Linked DNA regions of Homo sapiens. The protein of the gene in region 1 purifies or fractionates together with the protein of each later gene. This does not show direct contact. Each region holds a gene or a part of one and is shown on either strand. Other genes may lie near its edges.

Region 1 (3,654 bases):
CCCTTCACTCCCATGGAATCTGCTCTCTATTCTCAGAGTAAACCTGACTCAACAACAGGAATTGAGCACCCAGGCATGCGAGCCCACACAGCTGACTCCCTTCTATCAACTCTGCCCTTCTTCTGGTTGGCTGAACTTCTTGAATCTATAAAGTTACATTTTTTACCACTAAATTTGGGAAACGTTTGGTAGTTATTTCTTTAATCATATTTTTCCACCCTGTTATTATTCTTCTCTTCTCTTTCTTGCATTTAGTTGTGTATGTTAAACCTTTTATTTTGTCCCACAGATCCTGTTCATTTAATTTCCCATCATTTTACTTTCTCTTCTTCAAATCAAATATTTTTCTATTGATGTTTTCAAATTTGCCGGCTCTGTCTTCTGTCCTCTTCCATCTGCTGTTAAGCCCATCGTTGATGGGAACAAGACCAGCCCTAGCTTCAAGGGAAGTGGGTGATCGGGTTTGGATTTGTGTCCCCGCCCAGATCTCATGCCAATTATCATTCCCAATGAGGGTGGTGGGGCCTGGTGGGAGGTGATGGGATCATGGGGGCGGAGTTCCCAGGAACGGTTTCCTGCCATCCGCTTGGTGCTGTTCTCAAGATAGTGAGTTCTTGTGAGATCTGGTTGTTTAAAAGTGTGTAGCACTCGCGACCCCACTCTTTCTCCTGCTCCTGCCCTGTAAGCTGCCTGCTCCCCATTTGCGTTCCGCCGCGACTGAAAGCTTCCTGAAGTCTCCCCAGAAGCCGAAGCCGCTACGCTTCCTGTACAGCCTGCAGAACCGTGAGCCAATTAAACCTCTGGTATTTCTTTCTTTTTCTTTTTTTTCTTTCTTTGAGACGGAGTCTCATTCTGTCGCCCAGGCCTGAGTGCAGTAGCGCGATCTTGGCTCACTGCAACCTCCTCCTCCCAGGTTCAAGCGATTCTCCTGCCTCAGCCTCTTGAGTAGCTGAAATTACAGGCGCCCACCACGACGCCCAGCTAATTTATATATTTTTTGTAGAGACGGGGTTTCACCATGTTGGCCAGACTGGTCTTGAACTCCTGACCTCAGGTGATCTGCCCCCCTCGGCCTATCAAAGTGCTGGGATTAGAGGTGTGAGCCACTGCGCCTGGCCTGGTATTTCTTTATCACAATGCGAGAACGGACTAACACAGTGGGGAGATGTATTTCTTTTTCAGGTGGGCACATTGCATGCCACAGGGATTTTGCTGGTAAAGCAGGAGAGGAGGGTGGCTGTGAGGGAATAGCTAGCAGCTGGTGGCCTCTCCTGGCACCTGTCCTTTCTCCTCTATCTTCTGCTTTACCTAAGTAAAAGAGTCAGGTGTTTTCTTTCCAAATTAAGATGACCTCATTCCTTTGCTGAATGGCTCCTCATGGCTTTTCCAAGTAAGTGTAAACACCTGTGCCTAGAATGTGTAGCCTCAAACAATATCGTCCCAATCTCTTTGCCTGGGGCTTCCTCTCTTCTCTGATTTACACACCCAAGTCCAAGTTGTGTCCCACTTCCCTGTCCCACGTGCCATGCCTTGGGTGCACTACGTTTCCTGCTCGCCTCCCTTTATCTGGGCTTCCTTCCTTTGGATCACAGCCTCCCAGGAACATGCTCCTGTTTCGAGGGTCAAGTCAGAGGATTTCTACAGTGTTCTCCCTGTGCTATTTGGTGCATTAATATTTATTTTTTATTTATTTATTTTTAATTTCTATGTATTCATTTGTTTTTTGGAGACCGGCTCTCACTGTTGCCAGGTTGGAGTGCAGTGGCATGATCACGGTTCACTGCAGCACCTTCCAGCTTAAGTGGTCCTCCTGCCTCAGTCCCCCAAGTAACTGGGACTATAGGTGTGTGCCATCATGCCCAGGCTAATTGGTGTATTTTTTGTAGAGATAGAGTCTTGCCATGTTGCTCAGGCTGGTCTCAAACTCCTGGGCTCAAGAGATTCGCCCACCTTAGCCTCCCAAAGTGCTGGGGTTACAGGCATGAACCACCATGCCCGGCCCATAAGTATTTATTAGGTACCTAGTATGTGCAGGATGTGGCAAATAAGACAAACCTAGTCCCTGTCCAATATCCAGGTGCAGAGGTTGGCATTAAAAGATAGTGGGGCATTGGATGGGAAGCTAGAATCAGGCTACAGAGAGCATGCCTGCCATTTCCAATTAGTTCCTTCGGAATGTTTACTTCTCAAGCAGAGCACTTGTGGCAGGAAACTGTCGTCATCTCAGAAAGGTAGAAAAGCCTCTCCGCTATTATTCTCATTGCTTTTTGTTCTTTCCAAACTCTCCAGTGTGCTTGGGGATGATGTTAATAGATGGATGTCATCAGCATACATTATTTCTTTATTAGCCCGTTTCTCAATTTTGATTCTGAAAATACCCTGATTTAGTCTAATTGCAATTTCACTGTGTTCCACAGGCAGTGACAGTTCATACTTGGGGGGAGCTGAGACGCGACCCTGTAGGATTTTTTTTCTTGTCCATATGCCTTTGAAGCCGGACCATTAGCTCTAAGGCATGCATCTCATCTCATCACAGTGTCATTCAACCTGCTTCTGGGGAAAAAAAAAGAGCCTAGGGTGTGTGTCTCGTAGAAAGCAAAGAAACATTTTAATTCTAGGTGGTGGGAGATATTTTTCTGTATTTAAAGAGAGGGCTGCTGCAGCAGCCATTTTGTTCCTAAATAATTCAACTATATTCAAAGATAATCTGATGTTATTGTAGGAAAGTGTATTTCTAATAAATTCCACTTGATCTGGGTGAATCAATTCAGGCAGCGCATAATTGAGTCTGTTAGCAAGGACTTTAGCAAGAATTTTGCAATCAGCGTTAATTAAGAAGATGGGACAATAATTTGTGCATAATTCCGGATCTTTTCCTGGCTTGTGAATCAAAGTAATAAGAGCAATGCTCAGGCTGGTGGTGGGATAGTGTCATTAGGTGCTGATTTATAAGTACTTAGAAAGGTTTAATTTCATTTTGCTTCGAGCAGGGTCTCCCTGCCCCCACGCTCTCTGGTGGAGTGAGCAGTCAAGACAGCAGAGCGCTTCTCCTCCTGCCTGCCCTGCCGTGGGTGACCTCTCGCTTCCCATTTCTGTTTTTATTCTCCAGCCTAGCACCCCACTTACTTGCCCATGATTTTTTGGGATTATTTTTGCTCAATGATTTGAAACCAGGGACTCTATCTACTGAGATTGTGTGCACGTGTGCATGACTGTGTGTGTGCGTGTGTACATATGCATATGTATGCTTCATGTCAGATTAAAGGGTTGTAGACAGCTTCACTGGGAAGTTTTTTCAGGGACGTTCCTGCAAAATGTCTCTGGGTGGGTAGGCAGCAAGAGCCCCTGACTACAAGTCAGGAAGCATACCTGCTCCTGCTCTGCTCCTAACTGGCTGTTGACCAGCAAGTGAACACAGGTGAGCAGCAGTGTTCCGGTCTGTAGAACGCAGCTGTGGGATGAACTACAGGTGCCGTGGAGCACGGGAAAGGGCACTGGGTTTACAGTGCCAATTGTCTGTGGAACCCAAGGTGTGTCATGCAACTTCTCCAAGCCTCATTTTCCTCAGCTGGAGGAGTGGAAAGGGGAGAGCTCTTGGAGATGCTCTCACCTGTTCTCCAGGGAACAGCAGGGACTTGCGGCATTGCCAATTCC
Region 2 (3,654 bases), on another chromosome or scaffold:
CTGGATGGCCGGCCAGATGAACTCCTCCACAAACTCCCTGCTGACATCCTCAATGAACACCTACGGGAAGAGGAGCCCAGAAGGAAGAAGTAGGCAAGGACAGGGGCCATCTGGCATACAGAGCCCCAGGGGCCTCAGCTAGCTGAGACCTATACGGGGCCACCCCCGCTGTACCTGGTGCTTCTTCTTCTGCATCTGTAGTAGACATCATTCATCAATCCCAGCACACTGCACTGTTACTCTCCCTCCTGCACTCATGGCAGACATTGCTAATCAATAGCTCTCTTTTTTTTTTTTTTTTTGAGTCGAAGTCTTGCTCTGTTGCCCAGGTTGGAGTGCAGTGGCTCAGTCTCAACTCACTGCAACCTCCGTCTCCCAGGTTCAAGCAACTCCCCTGCCTCAGCCTCTTGAGTAGCTGGGATTACAGGCGCATGCCACCATGGCTTGCTAATTTTTGTATTTTTGGTAGAGACGGGGTTTCACCATGTTGGCCAGGTTGGTCTTGAACCCCTGACCTCAGGTGATCCAGCTGCCTCGGCCTCCCAAAGTGCTGGGATTACAGGCACAAGCCACCGCGGCCAGCCTGCTAATCAATCCTGATGCACCGTTCTGTGAAACTGGATGTGGCTTCTAAATCAGCCCCAACAAGATGAAACTTAGTTGTCACCTAAGATCTCACAGCAGTAGTTCCCAACCAGAGACGGTTTTGTCCCTGTTGGGGGTGGGAGTAGGGGAGGCATTTGGAAGTATCTGGAGATATTTTTGGTTGCCACAACTACCAGGTGGGGGGTGGAATTCTGGCATCTAGTGGGTAAAGGCTATGGGGATACTGCTAAAATCCTCCCGTGCACAGGACGGCCAGCCACACGGGAACAAGGCCAAGACTGAGAAACCCCGATCCAGAGGAATGGTTCTTGAAATGTAGACCCCCAGGGGTTCCCAATGACTTTTCAGGGAGACACTGAGTGAAAACTTTTTTTTTGTTTTTTTGAGACAGGGTCTTTCTCTGTCATCCAGACTGGAGTGCAGTGGTGTGATCCTAGCTCACTGCAGCCTCAACCTCCTGGGTTCAAGCAATCCTCCCACCTCAGCCTCTTGAGTAGCTGGGACTACGGGCATGTGCTACCACGCCCGGCTAAGTTTTTTATTTTTTGTAGAGATGGGATCTCACTGTGTTGCCCAGTTTTCTTCATAAACTTCAATAAAACAAGGCATCACATAGCGAGGAAGCCCTGGGAGGCTAAAAAAGAAAAACAAACAAACAAACGAAAAAACAAGTGAATGCAGAAAACCGCTACAAGAGTCCATCTGTTTTCTGTCAAGCCAGACATTACAGAGATTTGCAAAAATGGAAGCCAATAAGATTCTTAACTAAAATTTTTTGTTTGAGAAAATAGTTATTTTTCATAAGTGTAATGTTACTTATGTTAACATGAACTGTTCATTTAAAACATTTCAGCTTTTATTTCTAATGTGATAAATATCAACAGATGTAATCCACAAAAGCTCTCTAAGGCCTTCAGTAATTTTTATTTTTTTGAGATGGACTCTCTGTCATCCAGACTGGAGTGCAGAGGTGCAATCTTGGCTCACTGTAACCTCTGCCTTCCGGGTTCAAGTGATTCTCCTGCCTCAGCCTCCCGAGTGGCTGGGACTACAGGCATGTGGGGTTTCTCTACTAAAGAAACTAGGCTGGTTGGCCAGGCTGGTCTCAAACTCCTGACCTCAAGAGATCTGCCCACTTCAGCCTCCCAAAGTGCTAGGATTACAAGCGTGAGCCACCGCACCCAGCCAAGGCCTTCAATAATTTTTAAGAGTCGAGAAATTCTTGGTACTGCTTTTGCAACTTCCTGTGTCTATAATTATTTTGAAAAAAATCCTTTTAAAAAATGAAATAAAAAGGCATAGAAAAGAAAGCAATTGGGACTAAGGATATATAAAAAACATTAGGATAAATGTGTTTTTGTGTTTGTTTGGTTGGTTGGTTGGTTTTTTTTACAGAGTTTTGCTGTTGTTGCCCAGGATGGAGTGCAATGGTGTGATTTCAGCTTACTGCAACCTCCGCCTCCTGGGTTCAAGCGACTCTCCTGCCTCAGCCTCCCGAGCATCTGGGATTACAGGCACCCACCATCGCGCCCAGCTAATTTTTGTATTTTTAGTAGAGACAGGGTTTCACCATGTTGGCCAGGCTGGTCTTGAACTCCTGACCTCAGGTGATCTGCCTGCCTCAGCCTGCCAAAGTGCTGGGATTACAGGCGTGAGCCACTGTGCCTGGCCCATCCTAATGTTATATGCAAGAAAATAAACATTAAAAACGCCACGTAAATTAGAGTGTAGAGGATTCCCAAGACCACAAGTTTTGAGAACTGCTCATCTAGAATAAAGGACAAAAGCTGAAGCCGTGCACAAAGCCTGCTCCTGCGCTGCTGAAAGCGCACTCGAATCTTCAACACTCAGGGCTCTTTCTCCCCTTCCTGGACTACTGCTCAGACAACCCCTCTGCTCTCCAGCACTCGGGAGGCACAGAACCAAGGAGGGACATTCTAGTTCCAGGCCTGTGGCCAGTAGGTGACTTGGGACTGGGGCATCCACTCCCTCCCGTGTTCATTTTAACATGCTAATTACCCTGGCAACCCTGCAGAAGCACCCCACAGAGGGGATCAGCTCTGACCCTGCAGGTGGGCTGGTGGCCTTGCACATCATCCCTGCTATGTCCCCTGCTCACTCTCCCAAATGAAGGGGCACAAGTGGCAAGGGCTTCTCCATGGGGAGTGAGCACATGTGAGCAGGGGTCCTGATGACACTGTTCATCATAAATGCCCTGTATGGGACAGGGGTCTGCCTGCCACATGCCTAGATTCACAATCAAGGCACCAGACTCAATTGGAGTTCTCTGATTCTGTTGAATGAATGGAAGAATGGGTAGACAGAGAGATAAAAGAGGGAAGGACAGGTAGGGGGATGATGGACAGAAGGATGGATGATGGATGACAGATGGATGGATGGATGAATGGATGGATAGAAAAACGGTGAATGGATGAAGGATGGATGGATGGATGGGGGATGGATAGATGAATGGCTGGCTGTCTGGATGAATGGATGGATAGACAGTGGAGGGATTAATGACAGATGGATATGTGGATGGATGGATGGATAATGAAGGGATGGATGGGTGAATGGATAATGGGATGGATGGATAGATGATGGATGGATGAATGGATGGATGAATAGACGGATGGATGATGGATGGATGCATGGGTAGATGATGGATGGATGAATGGATGATGCATGGAAGGATGAAGAATGATGGATGGATGGATGGATGATGGATGAATAAATGGATGATGGATGGATAGACGGATGATGGCTGGATGAATGGATGATGGGTGAATGGATGGATGGATGGATGATGGATGAATGGATGGATGATGGATGGATGGATGATGGGTGAATGGATGGATGGATGATGGATGAATGGACGGAGGATGGATGGATAGATGGATAGATGGATGATGGATGGATGGATGAATGGATGGATGGATAATGGATGGGTGGATGAGTGGATGGGTGATGGATGGATGGGTGGATGGATGATGGATGAATGGATGAATGGATGGATGGATGGATGATGGGTGAATGGATGGGTGGGTGATG
Region 3 (3,654 bases), on another chromosome or scaffold:
ACAACACAAATGACCATCGGCTGACGAAAAGATAAAGAAAATGTGATATATCCCTACAATGGGATACTATTCAGCCATAAGAAGGAATACGGTATTGATAAATGCTACCGCCTCGATGAGCCTTAAAAACATTATACTAAGTAAAAGAAGCTAGACACAAAAATCACAGGTTACATGATTCCAATCAGATGAAATGTCTGGAATAGGAAAACCCACAAACACCTAAAGGAGATAAGTCGTTGCCAGCAGCTGAGGAATGTGAGTCATCAGGGATGTTTTCTAACGGGCACAAGGTTTCTTTCTGGGCTGATAAAAATGCTCTGGAATTAGATAGTGGGATGGTTGCACAACTTCGTGGTTCTACTAAAATGCACAGGCTCGTAAATGTTAAAGTGGTGAATGTTATGGTGTACTACATTACATCTCCATTTTAAAATGTATGAAGTACCTTTACTTACCAAGCACTGCGTTATAGTCTGAAGAAACCACGGAAACAACTGTCCTGCCACTAAGGCACTTACTACCTGGTAGGGAGACACGCAAACAAACAGATACAAATAGCCAAGCATAGAGGTGCTTGGATGGGCATTTGTGTGGTACACAGCAGAGCCCAAAAGAGGAGAGGTCTGGAGAGACTCCACAGGAAAGTTTCACCCGAGCTGAATCTCCAACTGAACTTAAAAAAAAAAATTAATAATCCTTTGGTCTTCTCATGTAATATCAAACAGGGAGAGAGGAGAGCTAGGGTCTTAATCTAACACTACCCTCTGATTATACCATAGACCTTAGGAAAGTCATTTACTTCTCTGGACCTCAGTCTCTTACTTCCTACAAAAGTAAGGTGTTGGCTGGGCACGGTGGCTCACACCTATAACCCCAGTGCTTTGGGAGGCCGAGGCGGGCAGGTCATTTGAGGTCAGGAGTTCAAGACCAGCTTTGGCCAACATGGTGAAACCCCATCTCTACTAAAAATACAAAAATATTAGCCAGGCATGGTGGTGCATGCCTGTAATCCTAGCCACCCAGAAGGCGGAGGCACAGAGAATCGCTGGAACCCGGGAGGCAGAGGCTGCAGTGAGCCAAGATCACACCAGTGTGCTCCAGCCTGGGTGACAGAGCAAGACTCTGTCAAAATAAATAAATAAATAAATAAATAAATAAATAAATAAATAAATAAATAAATAAAGGTGTTGATATCAAAGGTTTATTTCTACCTTTGAGAAATATCTAGAATCCTCGTGCATATCATATCATAGTCTATCTAAAATCCTGACATACTTAAATCCTGATTCTGCAAAGGGTTTCTCTAGTGTATTCTGGGTGTGCTGCTTTCTGAGATTGAGAAAGGAATCTTCCTGCTGGCTACCTCTACACGCCCTAACAAACAGCACACAGACTATGCTTCCTTCCTGTTGGCAGCCTTCATCTTCCACCCCAGGGACAGAATCACCCATCTGCTGACCACGTATTCACCTTATATTACCTTCCTACTGGTAGCCTTCGTCTTGTAGTCCATAGACAAATCAAGCCTGTGCTGGCCACCTGTCCACCCCAATGAGTAACACACAATCCATATCCCCCCTCTTTTTTTTCTTTTTTTTTTTGAGACAAAGTCTCACTTTGTTGTCCAGGCTGGAGTGCAGTAGTGCTATCTCGGCTCACTGCAACCTCTGCCTCCCAGGTTCAAGCAATTTCCCAGCCTCAGCCTCCTGAGTAGCTGGGACTACAGGCGCCCACCACCATGCCAGGCTAATTTTTGTATTTTTTAGTAGAGACGGGGTTTCACTATGTTGGCCAGGCTGGTCTCGACCTCCTGACCTCGTGATTCACCCATCTCGGCCTCCCAAAGTGCTGGGATTACAGGCGTGAGCCACTGTGCCCAGCCTCCACACAATCCATATTCCCTTTCTGTTAGCAGCTTTGTCTTGTACCCATGGCCGTCACAGGTCCATGGCTGATTTGCCAAGTTAACAGGAGTCCATCCATAATAATCAGCACTGGGTCATGCCCCAGAATCATTAGGATCAAAGGATGGGAAATCAGGGATTTCTTTGAAAGTAAGCCACTCTTAGTAAGATTCAAATTTGTTTAAAGCCTGGATTAAAACAATGCCAAACAATAAACTTAAACAGACTGCTTTACCCTCTGACTTTAAATAAGATTAGTTTTTAAGTACATTTAATTAAAACGAATGGGGCATTGCAGCATATTTACTCACTCAAGGAAGTAATTTACATGGGAACATTTCATGTGAAAATAGTTACTTGCCCACATTCCTAGGACTAAAAATAAAATAAACAAAACAAAAAGCAACCATCAATAAAACAAAAAAAAAGCTGGACCAAGTAGATTCAGCCAGTGGAACTAGGTGAAAAGTGTCTTACTTCTACCTTTTTCTTTCCACTCTCAGATCATTGGGCTATTTTCCTTTTACTCGTATTTTGGGTAAATCATATCTATTTTACAGCTCAAATCGCAAATCCTACTTTCTCTTTCCCTTCAGTGATATTTCTTTCCTTTGAAAACTAATTGTATTTGTTATCTAGACAATTATTCAACTTCTCACACATTTGGGTGAGAAGAAGAGGGGGAAGTATTTATCGAGCTCCAACTAAATGCCAGCATTTCTAAAATACGTATTTTCTCTTAGGGCTCATAATACCGCTGCAATGTGGGTAGTATTATCCACATTTTATATACGAGAAAACTAAGGCTCGGACATATTAAGTCACTTGCCCAGGTCACAGAACTGCAAAGAGCAGAGCTGGACTTTGAACTTGGCAGCGAGGTCTGACCCCATAACCCTGAATTTGCAACCAGTTTGCTTTGCAGCTTCTCCTGGCCTCAGCTACTTGAAGGCAGGGGGACAATTTAATGCCGAATTGTATTCTTCGAACATAGTGATTTGATTTCTGCGAACATTCACTCATTCATTTACTCATCACTCACAGCTTTTTTTCCATGCCAGGTACTATAATGGAATAAAAATAAGAGCACAGCTCTCTCCTTGCCCTCAGAGAGGACCTCAGTGTATGAAAAGGGAGAAGCTTATAAACAGGCAACTTGAACAAAGATGTGCAGAGGATGCTATGAAAACACAGAGGAGGACGAGGCAAGAGGTAAGATCAGGCCGGCCCAGAGGAGGAAAAGCTTAACCTGCAGCCTGCTGGGCCTCAGAGAAACTGGGGAGACTGTGCCAGGCAGCAGAATTGCACATACAAAGAGAGGCCCAACGTGAAAGCATCCTTCAAACATCTGTGACAAAGAAGACTGATGCGGGTGTTTGGGGGTTAAGAGTGGGACGTGATAGAAAGGCTTAACCGTCAAGAGCTTGAAACGTATGATTCTGGGAAATATGATTAAACTAATGGAATGAGAAGCCTAGGGAATTGAAAAGGGGTTATTGGTAACTATAAATAAAAAAAAAATGCAAACTATCTAATGCTTTCCCAAATAGCTGAAACCTCAAATCCCTCTCCATTCATGCCCTTGCAAGATGTAGAAGTAACTGGCCACCACCTATCATCTCCATCCTCAGGAGAACAAAAGTTAAAGTAAGACTGCTGTTTGGGGGGAACCATATCCCATCAACAAACCGGATGAGGCCCTGGGGACCCAGCATGCTGGAGGAACAGGAGGCCACAACACAGTGTG

What was found.
Region 2: the proteins of ASB18 (region 1) and ASS1 purify together in Homo sapiens (affinity purification with mass spectrometry, with the first as the bait; one large-scale study listed by BioGRID). This does not show direct contact.
Region 3: the proteins of ASB18 (region 1) and ABLIM1 purify together in Homo sapiens (affinity purification with mass spectrometry, with the first as the bait; one large-scale study listed by BioGRID). This does not show direct contact.

What each region holds. Positions count from the first base shown.
Region 1 is NC_000002.12:236,254,326-236,257,979, forward strand, and holds part of ASB18 (ankyrin repeat and SOCS box protein 18), read right to left. Parts: intron 1-3,654. UniProt on the Homo sapiens protein: May be a substrate-recognition component of a SCF-like ECS (Elongin-Cullin-SOCS-box protein) E3 ubiquitin-protein ligase complex which mediates the ubiquitination and subsequent proteasomal degradation of target proteins.
Region 2 is NC_000009.12:130,454,807-130,458,460, reverse strand, and holds part of ASS1 (argininosuccinate synthase), read right to left. Parts: intron 61-3,654; coding exon 1-60. UniProt on the Homo sapiens protein: One of the enzymes of the urea cycle, the metabolic pathway transforming neurotoxic amonia produced by protein catabolism into inocuous urea in the liver of ureotelic animals.
Region 3 is NC_000010.11:114,648,270-114,651,923, forward strand, and holds part of ABLIM1 (actin-binding LIM protein 1), read right to left. Parts: intron 1-3,654. UniProt on the Homo sapiens protein: May act as scaffold protein. May play a role in the development of the retina. Has been suggested to play a role in axon guidance.